2 separate regions of the Homo sapiens genome follow, and region 2 is linked to region 1. Evidence: fine-mapped expression QTL. Tissue or cell type: whole blood. Region 1 holds a variant in brackets; the other region holds the start of a gene. All regions are shown on one strand. Distances are between the middles of the regions.

Evidence for each region. PIP is the estimated chance that this variant, and not a neighbour inherited with it, causes the effect.
Region 2: it holds the start of INSC, and the variant in region 1 is fine-mapped to the expression of INSC in whole blood (TOPMed, PIP above 0.99).

What each region holds. Positions count from the first base shown.
Region 1 is chr11:15,175,261-15,183,519 of GRCh38, forward strand. It overlaps INSC (INSC spindle orientation adaptor protein), which reads left to right. Exons shown (of 13, transcript NM_001042536.3): 3 at 481-826; 4 at 1,851-1,903; 5 at 3,064-3,187. Among named protein-coding and RNA genes, the nearest start is that of INSC, 64 kb to the left of the region's middle. RefSeq lists enhancers at 159-682, 683-1,204. The variant AT/A (reference allele first, on the strand shown) is at 3,336.
Region 2 is chr11:15,111,391-15,119,390 of GRCh38, forward strand. It overlaps INSC (INSC spindle orientation adaptor protein), which reads left to right and starts at 3,533. Exons shown (of 13, transcript NM_001042536.3): 1 at 3,533-3,613. RefSeq lists enhancers at 2,006-2,055, 2,707-3,240.

The DNA of each region.
Region 1 (8,259 bases):
TCTTAGCTATAAACTTTTGGAAAGCATCATTTTAAATAATTGCGTACTACATAATCATAGCTATACCATAGCTCACTTAGTGTAACCATTATTTGATATTTAGGCTATTTCCATTAACTTTTTTTAAAGAGATGGGATCTTGCTATGTTGCCCAGGCTGGTCTTGAACTCCTGGCCTCAAGCAATATTCCTGCCTCACCCTTCCATTTCCCCCTTATTGTAAAGATCATTGGCTACTCTGTCAGACATAATTACCTGTTGCTTGTTAGTCTGGTCATCTGCCCTTAAAACTTTATGCTTCAGACTTCTTATCCATAAGATGAAGAGAATGAGAAATGACTGAGAATATCAAGGTGCATGAATGGGAGAAACACTGCTAAACATATAATAGGTGCTTAGTAAATATCAGATGGCCTAGAATTGAGACCTTTGGAAATCATGGGGTGTTGATAATTATCGTGGTGCTGTTTCCTGGTTGCAGGCTACACCTGATGCAGGTGGACTCAGTCCAGCGCTGGATGGAAGATCTGAAGCTCATGACCGAGTGCGAGTGCATGTGTGTCCTGCAGGCCAAGCCCATCAGCCTGGAAGAGGATGCACAGGGTGACCTCATCCTGGCAGGTGGCCCTGGCCCTGGAGACCCCCTGCAGCTGCTGCTCAAACGGGGTTGGGTCATTAGCACAGAGCTGCGCAGGATCGGGCAGAAGCTGGCCCAGGACCGCTGGGCACGGGTGCACAGCATGAGCGTGCGTCTGACCTGCCATGCCCGCTCCATGGTCAGCGAGTACAGTGCTGTCAGCAGGAACTCCTTGAAGGAAATGGGCGAGGTCAGCTGCCCTGGGATAGGAGTGGGCGGGAACTGGAAGTCAGGGTGCTTTAGAGAAGAGTGGGTTTGAATCATGTGGTGTCTGAATCTTTTTTGCTCCAGAAGCCTTTCTCCCCTTCCAGTAAAGGAGGAAAGAAAGAGAGTGGAATCTTTACTGAGTGCCTACTATGTGGTGGACATTGTGCTAGGTGTTTTTTTTTTACATGTATCTCATTTAACCTGCACAACCTGTGAGGTAGGTGCCACTACTTTGAGAAGCTGTGCAGTGGTTGAATATATTGACTTTAATGCCAGACTGCTTGGGTTGAAATGTTAGCTCTGCTATGTGGACCTCAGCAAGTTACTTAACTTCTCTGTGTCCCAGTTCCTTCATCCTAAAAGGTATAATAATATAATTTATTTTATAAATTTGTTGTGAGGACTAGATGAATTGTTATATGCAAAACACTTAAAGCAATTGATTAAAAATGTTAGGATTACCTTTATTTTATAGATGAGGAAACAAAAGTTCTAAGAGGCCAAATAATTTATTTAAAGTTACGCAGTGAATGGTGTAATAAGTAGGGTCCAATCTAAGCTTTTCTGAGTCCACAGCCCATGACTTTGAATCTTCTTCTCAAAGCCCAAGGTGAACCATTAAAAATCTCCCTTGTTATTAATTCTCTTTCATCATTCTCATTTCACATTAGTGCTTTGCCCTTTGCCTCGAACTTTTCCTTCCTTAGCTTTGCAGACATTAAAACTTCTCTTCATTCTTCAAAACCCAGCTCAAATGCCCCTTCTTTCCTGAAGCTTCCCAGCTTCCTCAGCATAAATAACTGCTCAGTTTCATTTTCTTATACTCCCAAAGCAGCCTACCGTGAGCTCTTTCACCACCTGTATCACACTGTGTTATATTTTAACTGCCTGTTCCCCAAGTCACATTAATTGATTCTTCATGTTTAATGTCCCCGTGTGCTCAGCACAGCAGTTGGTCCTCAGTTAATGCTTACTGAGTTGAATAAAATGGACTTATTTTTCTACAGATTGAGAAGCTGCTAATGGAGAAATGCTCGGAGCTCTCGGCAGTCACAGAGAGGTAAATTTGGACCATAGATCTCCCAGGGTCTGCCCACCCGACCTCTGGCAGGAGAAGGGGCTGGTATCTTCTCCCAGAGGGAGAATGGGAATGGGAGGCGTGGTGGTGGTTTCAGAGTTTCCTTTTTCTGACTTTTATCAGAAATCTTAAAATATTCTCTTGAAATTTTCTGCCCCATGTTCAGGCCCTAGGGATAGGGTAAAAGGCAGAGGAGAGGCCTGGGCATAGGAAGAAAGAGGATTTTCTAGGAGTTGGTAACAAGGAAAAGGTTTCCCACAGCTTTGGGAAGACCCACAGATCCCCAAAGTCAAGGCAAGAGTCAAGGCAAGGTGAAAGCCGACACTCACACCCTTACACACGCACATACACATAGACTTCAATGCCCACACTCACTTTCTCATATACAGATATATAAACACATGCTTGGACCAGCACAGAAATACATTCACACCCTTTCCTCCATATTTCACACACATAAACCTACATATGTTTATACTCAGATATGTACACACACTCAGCCTCACATGTATACACACCCAGGTGTGTGTTGACTTTTTCCTTCACCCTTCCCAGAGCCTGTGTCCTGAAGATAAAACCTGAGCTCCCTGAGGTCTTTTGCTTTCCTGGGTAGAACACTGTCAGGCCACAGGAGTAAATTGGAACCTGATCCCCCTCTGTTTTTCTTGTCTGGGAAGAAAATTCTCAAGGCTCTCTGCACACTCTAGGCAGCCATTTCTTAAAGGGCCACAGGCATTGCTATCCACCTTTTCAGAGCTCACTAGCAATACCTGGCACTTGGCACCTCTCTTTGAAGCTTCTTGCCCCTTCATCTCCCACCCCAACATCACAGAGAAGATAGACCCTGGCTGCAATGATGGCAGATTCTGCAGGGAGAAGCCCAGAGGTATAGATTTTCCACATTCTGATGGCCTTTCTTCCTGTTGATGTGGACTGGTAGTCCTCATCTCAGGCCAGCACATCTCTGCACACTAAGAGACCAGTGGGCAAGCCAGCTGTGGAATATTCCATCTCTGACTCCCAGTTGCCAATGTCTTCAGCACACACCAGGCTTGTAGCAGGTCCAGTTCTGGCCCGTGCAACATTTCTGGGCTGACCACATGCCCTTTCCAGTGGCCCACCCCATGGTTTCTTCTCTTCAGGTGCCTTCAGGTTGAGAATGAGCATGTCCTGAAGTCAATGAAGGCCTGCGTGAGTGAGACCCTGAGCATGCTGGGCCAGCACTTTGGTCAGCTGCTGGAGCTGGCCCTGACACGGGAGGTTCAGGTCAGTGCAGGCTGGGCTGCAGGGAGGGGTGCTTGTGTGGACCCTTGGAGGAAAGGAGAGAAAGAGGGGCTGAGCCAGGCTTGGGGAAGCTACTGATGTGGACTTTATTGGGAAACATCTTACTCAAACCACCAAAGTCAACTCCAGC[AT/A]TTGTGAAACAAAACTGTCAGAGCTGGGCTGAGGCTTCCTGAGCACCTAACCCAACTCTGCATTTTCCAGATGTGAAAACTGGAGCCCAGAGTGGGGAGAAACTTATCCAAGGTCACACAGCAAGATGGTGGCAGAGCCCAGCATCTCCCAATTCTACTTTCATTATTACTCCCACCCTTCCCAGAGCCTGTGTCCTGAAGATAAAACCTGAGCTCCCTGAGGTCTTTTGCTTTCCTGGGTAGAACACTGTCAGGCCACAGGAGTAAATTGGAACCTGATCCCCCTCTTCTCTGTTGAGTTAATGTTCACAGTTTACCCGATGGGTCCTTACTATCCTGAAAGAATTGAGGCACCTGCAGGGAATAAGCTAATTCTAGAAATCCTGACAACAGAGAAGAATCTAGAAAGATCATATAGTCTAGCCCCTGCCTCTAGGCAGGCTTGTGCTTGATTCCAGAAAGAGGGAGGGATTTGGAGCCTGGCCTATCTACTTTCTATCTGTGGTTCACCATGGAGCCTCAGTTAAGTTCCTGAACCTCTCTCAGCCTCGTTTTCCTCCTCTATAAATTGGTAAACCTTCTCCAGAAGAAAAGTGAGAGGACTAAGCAAAGGCATATGGAAGGTGTTTAGCACATAGTGTGGGTTAAATACATGTTATTTCCCTCCCTTACCCTTTGCTATTTTAAAAACCTCCCAGTAAAGCAGATTCCATAAGGTTTTCATTATGAAAGGTATTTATGGTTATTTATAGTTACAGAAATATTGTGTTACATATTTGCCATTCTTTTCCCACCACCAAATAAAAGCCTACCACAAATAACAAATCTCTTTCCATGTCGGCTCCTCTCCAAATTCAGCCTCTCTGCCGAGCCCAGGGTTTGCTTTCTCTCCTTCCTGAGTGTTTGGTTGGTTTGGTGCAGGCCCTTCTGGCTTGACTGACATGCTGGTCCTGCCTCACCCCCACTCCTCCCACAGGCCCCCATGTCAGTGCAGCAGGTCCTGGGTATTATCACCCCCGACCCCAACAACAGGAAGGTCCTCAAGGGCCACTCTCCATGTCTTGACAGGGACAAAGGGAAGGAAGGGCCACAGGCTGGGGTGCTGGGGCAGCACTTGGAGCTGATGAGCCAGTGCTGACAATCACATGCAGGGGCAGGTGGTGATCAACCATCAAGTCCAGAGGGACCCAAGGGACACAAGGACCAAAATGGACAAAAAAGTCGAGGGACTGATGAGCAAGAAATATTGGAGTTAGTGGTGGAGAGGGAGACCTGGAGCAACTTCTGAGCAGGGGTACAGGTGCTGGCTGTTGCTTTTTATGCCATTTTTGTGACCACTTTCCTGAAAGTGCCAGGTTCAATTAAAAGGGCTGAAAATGGCTGGACGCAGTGGCTCACGCCTGTAATTCCAGCACTTTGGGAGGCCAAGGCGGGCAGATCACGAGGTCAGGAGATCGAAACCATCCTGGCTAACGTGGTGAAACCCCATCTGTACTGAAAATGCAAAAAAAATAAGCCGGGCATGGTGGCGAGCACCTGTAGTCCCAGCTACTCAGGAGGCTGAGGCAGGAGAATGGTGTGAACCTGGGAGGCGGAGCTTGCAGTGAGGGGAGATCGCGCCACTGCACTCCAGCCTGGGCAACAGAGTGAGACTCCGTCTCAAAAAAAACAAACAAAACAAAACAAACAAACAAACAAACAAAAAGGGCTGAAAAAGAGGTGTTAAACTGTGAGTGAAAGCCAGCTGGGTTTGGAATTAGTCATCAGTGCTTTCTATGAGGCAGCAAAGAGGCAGGGTATCTTTGATGCTTTAGGTCAGAAGAGCCTGGGAAAATCTCCCTGGGCTTGCTTGGAGCCTACTTCCCTGGCCTTTGGGCTGTATAGTTGAATCCATTCTGCTATTTCTTCATTCTGATCATATTCAGGGTGAAATTCCTGATCTGGTGCTCCTACTTCCCCAGCTGTTCCCTGCTCTATTGCCAGGTCTGACCACCTGGTTCATTGATGCCTGGCCTGGAAGCTGAGTAGACCAGCTCCTGCCCTGTTAGAGTGGGTTCCTTATTGGCCTCCCTCTCATGGTAGGAGTGAGGGGGGGGGCGGGGGGGGGTGGTGGCCACAGAGTGTTGTCCTCCATTCATCTGCATATTAGTTTTCTTCCTGATAACCCCCATTCCTGGTGCTTTCCCCCTTCCCTGCCAGCAAGTCCCATGATTTCCTCCATGCCCTTTTAAGGGCTGAGCTTACCATGCTCATAATATATTTTTGGCTGATCTTTGGCTTCTTTTTATATTAGAAAGTTTCCATACAGGGCAGCAGTGACATCAGGAGATATATTGACTGAAGACAGGGTAACTTGTGTTCAGTGTTGTAAGCATGTGTTTCTTAAACTAGTGACTCAAATATTGTTCCTTAGGATGTTAGTAATTATACCAGGATCTTACATTTGTGCCGTCTTGATGTAAATGAAATCAAATCTATTTCTTTACATCAAAATTTGTCTTATGATGTGCCGGTCTGCTTTGCAAATCTTCCAAAAGGTCCTCAAGCACTTATAGTATTTCTTGTCTGACCTGCAGCTTCCATAGGCAGGGGTTTTGGTTTGTTTTGCTCGTGCATATATCTCTAGTGACTAGAACAGTATCTGGCATAGAATGTTAAGCAACATATTCCAAACTTTCAGGGTCACAGATTTAAAAATATTATTAAAGCACCTATTTACTTCTTCTGAGATGCTGGTGTTTTAGGAAATGCAATTCGAGAAACATTCTTTTAGCACTAAGAAGTCGTGTGGGCTCTTGAGCAGAGGAACAAATCTCCCCACCCCCTTCACCCCAGTATTAAGGGCTTTTTGGACTCCTTCAATTATGGTTGGAAAGAATGGTACAAACTGAGAAGTCCTGAAGGAACCTCCCATTGTTGTACAGACAGCCTGGACTAAAGCTGCTGAAAGAAACCCAGCTCCCCACACACTGGAATGAGGCCTTCCTGGCTGAGATGAACAAAGTATAAAAATTGAAGTGATTGTATTAACCCAAGAATCTGGGACTTTGGATTATTCCTAGAGTAAAAGGATTTAAGTTTTTTCTTTTCCTTTATTTTTTCCCAGGTAACTTTAAAATGGGATAGGAGCATATCAAAATTTTGGAAATCTTTATGTTTGTCATCATGCAAGTATGTTTGGATTATCTTTGTATTGCCATTTACTCTCGTTGCAGCTTCTACTTACCTATATTGGGCAACATGGCTGAGCAAAATCTGCTCAGTGGGAGAGTGGGAAATATAATAGGAAGCAAATTTCAATCTTTTTACTTTTAGGAATAATCCAAAGTCCCAAATTCTCAGGTTAGTACAATCTCTTCAATTTTCATACTCTGTTCATCTCAGCCAGGAGGGCCTCATTCCAGTGTGTGGGGAGTTGGGTTTCCTTCAGCAGCTGTAGTCCAGGCTGTCTCTTCAATAATGGGAGGGGTTCCTTCAGGACTTCTCAATTTGTACTAGTCTTTCCCAGCCATAATTAAAAGGGTTCAAAAAGCCCTTAATTCTGGATACATAATACTATCACAGCACTACACATATATTCTGAGAAAGTTACAATAAGCTGATCCTCAATGCCTACAGAACTCCAGGAACTTCAGGCAACCTGTTGTCCCAGGATGTCATCCTTAGGGTTGCCAAAGGCCTTAACAGATACATGCTCATCTGTAGCCAATAAAAAAAAAAGGATGTGACTGAGACTGTCTTGGTTGCAGCCTTGGTAGGATGTCAGTCAGTTTATTTCAGTTGTCTATAGTCTATAAAGATTTGTGAACATACACTCACTGGGGGAAAACATCCACCACAGGTTAATTGTGGTACTATGTTTACCATATATGGGGAAAAAAATGCCTCCTTTCTCATTGACGGGCATTTGAACTGTTTTCCTTTTCCTGCAAAGTCAGGCATTTGCAACTTCTTTACTAGGACTTGCTTGATTTGCATTCTTTCCCATTCAGCATATTCAAAACATCTTAATTTTTAGCTCCCTGAAAACACTGTGTTTCTGCCACTCCAGCATGCATTGATTTGGGCTTCTTGAAGTGACAGACCAGTAGTCTTCAAACCATTTCAAATGCACTGCATTCCCCAGGTTCTCAAAGATTTCCCAGGAGAAATGCAAGCACATACAGTTTTAAGGAAATCTTATTTCCAGATCTTCAATTTTCATTTGTTTTCTTTCTTAAAAATGATCTTCCCAATAATTCACTGAGTTTTTTATAGGCCTTCTATTATTTTCCAAAAGGCATACTCTTCATCCATCCCAAATCTTATAGTACATTGCCTTGCCATACAAAAATCTTGGTATGGGAGTGGAGAATCAAGCAAAGGAAAAGCTTTCATTCATGAACCATTAAGACCCTTAAGCTTCCATGAATTATTTCCATGCTTTATACATATTTATGTTGAGTATGCCATTAGAAATTGTGTATTTTGGCTGGGTGTGGCGACTCACGCTTGTAATCTCAGCACTTTGGGAGGCCGAGGCAGGCAGATCACCTGAGGTTGGGAGCTCGAGACCAGCCTGACCAACATAAAGAAACCCTGTCTCTACTAAAAATATAAAAAAAATTAGCCAGGCATGGTGGCACATGCTTGTAATCCCAGCTATTTGGGAGCCTGAGGCAGGAGAATTGGTTGAACTCAGGAGGCGGAGGTTGCCATGAGCCGAGATCTTGCCATTGCACTCCAGCCTGGGCAACAAGAGCAAAACTCCATCTCAAAAAAAAAAAAAAAAAAACCAGAAAAAAATAAATTGTGTATTTTTCCAAGTGTGAGCAGCTTCTCAATTCAGATATATTGTAGTGTGTGTATGTGTGTGTGTGTGTATGTGTGTTGTTGGAGGGATGATTATAAAAGTTTTCAATTTATTTTATCCCTTCCATCCAT
Region 2 (8,000 bases), 64 kb before region 1:
AAGTCTTTCCTCCATTTAGGTCTGAACTTGTCCTTCCTAAAGTGATGTGTGAAGCTGGTGGATCTGGGATAGGCCATCTGGACAGGAGAAGAATGTGGAGTCAGGCTGGAGGGGACCTTTGCCTGATACAGCTCTGGACCAGTCCTGAGGCGCCTACTTTGGTTTAGGTGAAATAAGCTATTTGTGGGTACACCTCTGAGCATGTGCATGTGTCTTTACCTGTGTGTCTTTCTGTGCATCCATAAGGATTCCCATGTGTATTTGTGTAGAGTCTCCATCTCACCAGCTGTGAGGCCACAGACAGGTGATTTAAACCACCTGGCCTCCCTTTTCTGTGTCTGTATTATGGGGATAATAATAACTTTTATAAAAGGTTACTATGGCAGCAAAATGAAACATGCACATAAGCTTCTTAGCACAGTTCCTGGTGCTCATGTGTTAGGCTGTTATTATCAATGTCTTGGGTAAGTTACTTACTGAGGCCCTCCCTGGGCCTCAGTTTCTTCATGTGTAAAATAGGGATAATACCAGAACCTAGTACTGTTCTAAGGATTAGAGCAATTGATACCTATGAAGTTCTCGTATATGCAATAAATGTTAATGATTAGAATGTATATTATCTTTGTGTCTGGATGTGTCTGGATGAGAATATCTGAGTTTGTAAATGTCTCTGAGCATGTCTTGCTGCTGGTGTGTGTATACACACATGTATATATGTGTTTAGGTGTGTTTATATAGCCAGACAGGCCCAGTCTCTCTGGTGGAGTTTGCTGTTGGCCCAAGCCTGGACTCCCTGAGCCAGCTAGGGCCGGCGCCGGGGATGGAATTTCCATTAAGAATTAAGCAGGACAGCACAGCATTGAGAAGTCAGGCAGACAGAGGGGAGGGGGTCGAGGGGGAGGAAGCTTCAACTCTGAGCTCCCTTGGGCAGCCTCAGTACTGAACTGCCTTGGACAAGCTTTGCCTTGAGTCACAGGCCTTCTCAGGGCCATGGCCCAGAAGGGTGGGCAAAGGGAAAGAAGCTGTTCACAGGGGCCTCTGTAAGGAGACTTGGAGTCGCTGCAGCCAAGGCTGGAGCCATGAGACGGCCCCCTGGCAATGGAGAGGCGGCCAGCGAAGGTCCAGGTGGCTGGGGTCTATGGGGAGTCCAGGAGTCCAGGAGGCTGTGCTGTGCCGTATGTATCTGGGAAGGTGGATGTGAGTGTGTGTGTGTGTGTGTGTGTGTGTGTGTGTGTGTGTGTGTGTGTATTGGGAAGTGGGGGGGGGGCATTTATGCCAAGTGCCTCCAGGGAACATCTAACAAACCAAGTCTGTTCCTCTCTTACCCTGAAACCCAGACACAGAGTTTGGGCCTGGAAATAAAAGAACTTTGAGGCTTTTTTGCTAACATCGATCTGTTTATGATCTAAGCCTCATTCTATTTCTAGCATATAATAAAATATCTTAGTTTTCCAGGTGCTTTACATCCTTGACCTCACTTCATACTTTCAACAACCTCATGAGCTGGGCAGAGATTTTTATGTTCCCCAATGTACATATGGGAAAACTGATGCTCAGAGAGGTTAAGTGATTTGTCCAAGGACTCATCACTAGAAAGTAGTAGAGGCAGGATGCAAAACAGGTTTCTTTGAGGAAGAATTGGAGACTTCTTTCCTTCCCTTCCTTTCCTTCCCTCTCTTCCCTCCCTTCCTTTCTTCCTTCCTTCCTCTTTCTTTCTTTTCTCTCTCTCTCTTTCTTTCTTTCTTTCTTTCTTTCTGTCTCTCTCTCTCTCTCTTTCTTTTTTGATGCAATCTCACTCTGTTGCCAGGCTGATGTGCAGTGGCACAATCTTGGCTCACTGGCTCACTGCAACCTCCGACTCATTGGTTCAAGCTATTCTCTTGCCTCAGCCTCCTGAGTAGCTGGGGTAACAGGCACATGACAACTCGCCCAGTTAATTTTTGTATTATTAGTAGAGATGGGGTTTCACCATGTCGGCCAGGATGGACTTAATCTCCGGACTTTGTGATCTATCCACCTTGGCCTCCCAAAGAGCTGGGATTACAGGCGTGAGCCACCACTCCCGGCTGAGACTATTCTTATCATACCACCTGCCCTACCGGAAACAGACTCAGAGAGAAGATTCTGCAAACAGTCTGTAAGACTGTGGTTTCAGTGGTAATGCCCAGCCAGGCGGCACCAAGCCCTGTCCCCAGCCCTAGACAGCACTTGTTGAAACAGGAACTGAGGCCCCTCTCAGGGAACTTGGGGAGTAGAATCAGGCTGTTCTGGATGACTGGAGGGTAGAGTTGAAGCTGGCTTGTCTGAGAGGAATGATTTGGCCACCTTCTGAGCCCTGGGCCCCCAGAGAGCTGAGGAGGAGAGTTAATATCAGAGAGCTACTGTGTGTGTTCGAGTCCAGGGAGCAGCAGTTAGCTTCAGCCAGAGCCTGAAAAAAGAAATAGAGATTATTAGCATTAAGGAAGAGAAGGCTGCAGTGGGACCTCGGCGTGGTCGTTTTGTCATGGGGACTGAGTTGAGCTCCTTCTCCCTGAATACATATTGTGAGCAAATTGACATAGTTTGCATGTGAGAGATTTAGGTTAGATGTCAAGGAGATCTTTCTGTCAGTAAGAGAGTTCAAGCTTTGGAACAGGGCTCAAGGGAGACCAGGGGCTGCCTTTGCTTGAGGACCTCCAAGAATAGGTCAAGATTCTCTGGGCTCTGGGAGCCTCATAGCAAGATGGCGGAGGCGGGGGAGGGGGAGTTGTATGAAATGATCTGGAAGCTTTCTTCCAGGTCAAAAATGCCACATTCCCGAGCTTTTGGGTAGGAATCAAGTTCCTCTAGATTTAGCTATTTGACAGAGTCCAGGACGGGGGTGGGGGGTGGGGGGTGGGGTCTGATCTTATGTGCCGAAGTTAGAAGGAGTTTCTGCAACAACCCCTCGTCATTTTTGGCAGGTCCAAGATGTGGAGGGTGACTTAGGTGTGTGTGAGCAAGGTTCCAGAGGGAAGCACCTGCGGTGAATAAACCGTCTCATTCTAGGCGTTTGGGGTCTATCAAAGCTGGGTGGCTTCCTCCTTCCTAGCAAGTGAACTGCACCCAAATCCCTCCTTGTTTTGTTTCAGCTCCAAGGGAAACGATCGCGGCACATTCCCTTCCCCTCTCCAGATGTTGGCATGCGGGGCACCTTGTGGGCGACCCCGCCTGGACGGCTTCGCGGCTCCCGGGCGATCACCCTGGTGCCTGCCGCCTGGCCCGGGGGAGCCCGGTCTCTAATTAGGCCTGACCGCGTCCCCATTCCAGCGCTCCTGCAGATGGGAGGGAGGGCCATGTTTCCCCCCCCAGGGGCACCGAAATAGCCTCGTAGTCCCGCGGAGACAGCAGGCAGCCGTGGCTGACGCGGGACCAAGGCTTGGCAGGGAGCGCGCTGCTGTGGAAGGTCCTTGGGAGGCTGCGACCGCCTCGGAGAGGGCGGGCGGGGGAGAACGGGGCGGGGGGTGGGGCGGGGGCCAGGGGCGGCCTCTCGGGCTGGGCCGGCAGAGCGGCCACTTTGCGCGCGGCCTCTGGAGCTCCAGCTGCGCCCCGCCACCACTGGCCGCTCGCACTACCAGCCTGTCTCGCACGCTAAGTAAGTAGACAGCTCCCCTAGCTGGATTCAGGGGGCTGGTGATGCCTCTGCTAGCCTAGTTGGGAACAGTGCAGGTTTGTCACTAATTGGATAGTAGGTGTAAGTGTGTCAGTGGGAGTGCTTGTGAAGGGGAGCTTGCGCCAGTGTGAGGGAGTGTGTCTGGATGGGATGTCCACATGTGGAATTTTCTAGCATGTGCCCCAGGGTGCGAGTGTGGGTGAACGAGTGTGTCAGAGTGTGTGGTGGCCTGGAGTGGGCCACAGGTATTTGCCTGTGTGGCACCTGCTGCCCTGGGTGCACTGTGTCTGTACCTGTGGAAATGCCTGTGTGTGTGGCAGGAAGGCCCCCAGGTGGGCTGAGCCAGTCCACATGTGGATGAGTGGATGTGCCAGTGTGAACCCAGGAAGGCAGAAATTGGGGCTAGGGAGTGTTATCTGAACTCAGGCTTTCTAAGGTGACCTGACTTGTCCCAGCTGGGGTGTCTTCTCTGTGGGTCATTCAGCTTTGGTTTCTCAGGGCTTGGAGAAGGACAGAAGCTCAGAGCCCTCACACAACACTGGAGTGAATGTGGCTCTGACTAACCCCATCTGGCTAGACCAGGGTCAGGGAGACAGCTTGGGAGACCCCACTCTTAAACCAGGAGAAGAGACAGGAGGCCAGGGGATGAGTGGACCATATGGCCATGGCCACCCACAAACACTCGCAGTGCACCCACGCTTACATGCTCAGCATACACACATTCCTGTCCATGTGCACCAGTCTTGCACACACTCTTCTCAGGATAGCCATGCAACCATTCACACTTTCAACATGTATACCTGTGGACAACGACATGTATGCAACATGCACCCACTTTGTTCAATGCATATGCGCAAATGTATCCCTGGTGTGGCCCCACCCTCAGCCGCTAGCCTCCTCCCACTTTTGCCCCTTTTAATCTATATATTATACCTCTGACAATGGGTCCAAGAAACTGGCCTCAGTGGGGAATATTTTAAGTCAGGGACTTTGGCTGTGGGGGTCAGGGCAGATGGTGATGTGGTGCCTTTGAGGGGTTCCATTGAATCTGAAACTGAGGCTGTCCATGGAGCTCAGCCAGAGAGCATCTTGTCCCTTTAGCTCTGGGACTTAGAAGCACTGTTCGCCCTTTTAGAAGTGAAAACTTCCAAACACTGCCTTTGGAAGGCAAGCCAGGTCAGGCTGGGATCTGACATGGAGCTCAGCATATATAATTTGCTCCATGCTGTAGTTTATACTCTGGATTACACTTGCTGCAGAGAAGCAGTGACCTTTCTGGGTTGGGTCCCAAGGCAACCATTTGGCAGGGAGGACAGTGAATTGAGCTGGGTTGATTCTTTCTCTTCTTTGGTTTCGTTCAACCCTACTTTGAGTCTCCCTCCCACAGGCTGGTGGAGGGATGGCATTTGCTCTGCTCCTTTCCTTTCTTCCAGTGGTTATCTTTTTTTCTGGACAGAATCTTCTCCATGACCTCCTCCCCCTGGTGACCACTGGGCACACACTATACAGCGCTTGGAAGAGTAGGTGCCCTAAAATACCAGCTGAGTGGTGGTGTTATTCTTCTTAGTAGAGCTTCTAGACCTGTCCCATCCTGGCTATTCTCTTCTGAATACTTCAGTGAGGTACCCAGACTAAATGTGCTCTTTCAGCTGGGAAGTTAGAAAGATGGTATTGAGCTTCCTTCCTTCCCTTCCTTTCTTCCTTCCTTCTCTTTCTCTCTTTTCCTTCCTTCCTTCCTTCCATTCTTTCTTTTTTTCTTCCTTCCTTTCTTTTCTTTTCTTTCTTTTCTTTCTTTCTTTCTTTCTTTCTTTCTTTCTTTCTTTCTTTCTCTCTCTCTCTCTCTCTCTCTCTCTCTCCCCCTCCCTCCCTCCCTCCCTCCCTCCCTCCCTCCCTCCCTCCCTCCTTCCTTCCTTCCTTCCTTCCTTCTTTCCTTCCTTCTTTGATGGAGTCTTGCTCTATCGCCCAGGCTGGAGTGCAGTGGCATGATCTCAGCTCATTGCAACCTCTGCCCCCCGGATTCAAGCGATTCTCCTGCCTCAGCCCCTGAGTAGCTGGGATTATAGACCCCCACCACCATGCCCAGCTAATTTTTGTATTTTTAGTAGAGATGGGGTTTTTCCATGTTGGTCAGGCTGGTCTTGAACTCCTGACCTCAGGTGATCTGCCTGCCTAGGCCTCCGATACTGCTGGGATAACAGGTGTGAGCCACCATGCCTGGCCTGAGTTTCTTCTTTCTTAGTGTTTATGGTTTAGTCTAAGGGGTGACTAAGCTCTCACCCACCAACTCCTCTAATATGCAGGAGAGCAAGTTGGGTTCAACCATTTTTTGAGGGGAATGCTGGGATCTAGCTTCTCTTTGGCCTGATCCTACACCTGACCCTTGGGAATGGTTAAAAAAGGGCAGGCTATGGTCAGTCCAGCAGAATAAAGGTGGCAGGGGAAGGAATTATTTTCCCATTGTGCTTCCCTTGTCACTCTGCTTGCTGGGAAGCTCTTAGTCCATCATATGGCTCTGTTGTAATAACTATGTTAGTTGGAACCATTGCTTTGACTTCTAATTTCTGCTTTATCAACTTTATAGAATACATATTTTTAACTGTAAACTTCCACATCCTTTGTTGAAGGAAATCAGAACAAATAAATGAAAAACCAGCAATTAAGCATTCTATTGGTCTCTGGGGATGGGAATCACACTGGATTTTCCTGGGACATCCTCAATTTCAAATATGTCATCTGGTTTTCAACTCATATGTCTCAATTTGGCTTCTGTACCTTTGAACTCTAATTGGTGACGATGTCTTGGAGGTTTTTTTCCTAGTAGCTCTGGGACATAATGCCCATCTCTGTGCTGGCTCAGACAAGGGGGATAGTTGAGAATGAATTGGGCCATTGATAAACACCCCCTGCTCCGAGTGTTTCAGCTGCCAGCTCTTCCCTGTCTCAAAAGCTCAAGTGTCTGGGTGCCCGAAGGAGTTTGACCCTTGCCCTAAGCCTGGCCCTGGCCCCGCAGCCACCCCTTCCTCATGTGACCCTGCCCAACTCAGGGCTCTCTGTGTCTCTTGGATCTGAGCCCTCCCCCAGTATGGAACACAACATCTCTGATCAGGGATGGCCCTTGTGGAACTGGAGCTTGGGATGGGGAGCTTGGACTTAGGAGTGTGGAGGAGCACATGAAGGGCTTTACTGCCTCCTTGCCTGGGTCTGTGAGGCTAAGTGGTCAGGGAATCATTTGTCACCTCTTATCTGCAGAGGTGCACCTCATCTGAATGCAGGGCAGGGTTCTAGCCACATTGCAAAGTTGGTGAAACTTCTAATTCACTCCAAGTCAAATTATTTTATGCTGCCCAAGACCACTCATGTTTGGAAAGGAGAAAGCTGGAGGGTAAAGCTTAGCAACAAAGAATGATTAGAATAACTTGAATGGTGGGCTTTCAGGCATTGCATTGAGGTCCTGCTTCTCATTATATCTTATGTCAACCCAAGCTGGTGGCCATTGCCTGCCTTCAAGATATATCCTCCCAGAAGCATTTGATCACAAGGTAGGAAAGAGGAAATCCCCTGTGGCCTGGTACTGAGTAATGTGCTGGTGGCTTGGTATGGGTGAGGTGTTTTTTCCTTCCCAGAAAAGTGTTATCTTAAAAAGGTAAGACTAAGACTGGACCACATCTCTGCTGAATTTTCACACTATTTAGACTCTGGTTGTCCCCTGGGCTTTAAGCTCAACCAAGTGAAAACAGGCTTAAAAGCCAGTAAGAGCATTGTGTGAGATAGTTAGGACTTCTGTGCAGGAAAGGTAACTCACAGTAACTCACTTTTATTTATTATTGACTACTGTCCAGCTTCCTTTTTAGGCTCTTTCCATCTTTTGTTTCATGAAACCTCTATACCAACTCTATGAAATAGTGAAGACTATTTTAAATATAAGGAAACAGAAACACAGCAAGGCTAAACAACTAGCCCAAGGTCAGAGCTAGCAAAGATTCCTTTCCAGATCTGTCTAACTCCAGAGTGTGTAGTGAATGTCCACTGACCACGAGAGATGCCGGCAACTCCCTCATTTCAAAGGCTTTCAAAGCAGAAAAAACTACTCCTTTGGGCAAATTGGGGAATGAGGCTAAGGGGCTTGACTTCTCTGTCTGTCTCCAGGACCTCAACGTGATCAGCATCATTGGCCTTTCCAGCCTCAGCTGGAGACTGTTGCTGTGTGAGAAGCAGGGATTGAAGGGGTGGGAAAGGCCTCCTGGGTTGTGTGGGGATCTCTCCCTCTGTCTTTCAACCCCCCACCAACATGCAGTGGGCAGTGTTGAACTTCTGTGCCTTCACTTCTCCATGGAGCAACCTCTGTCCTGGGAACCAAGCCTCTGCCCAG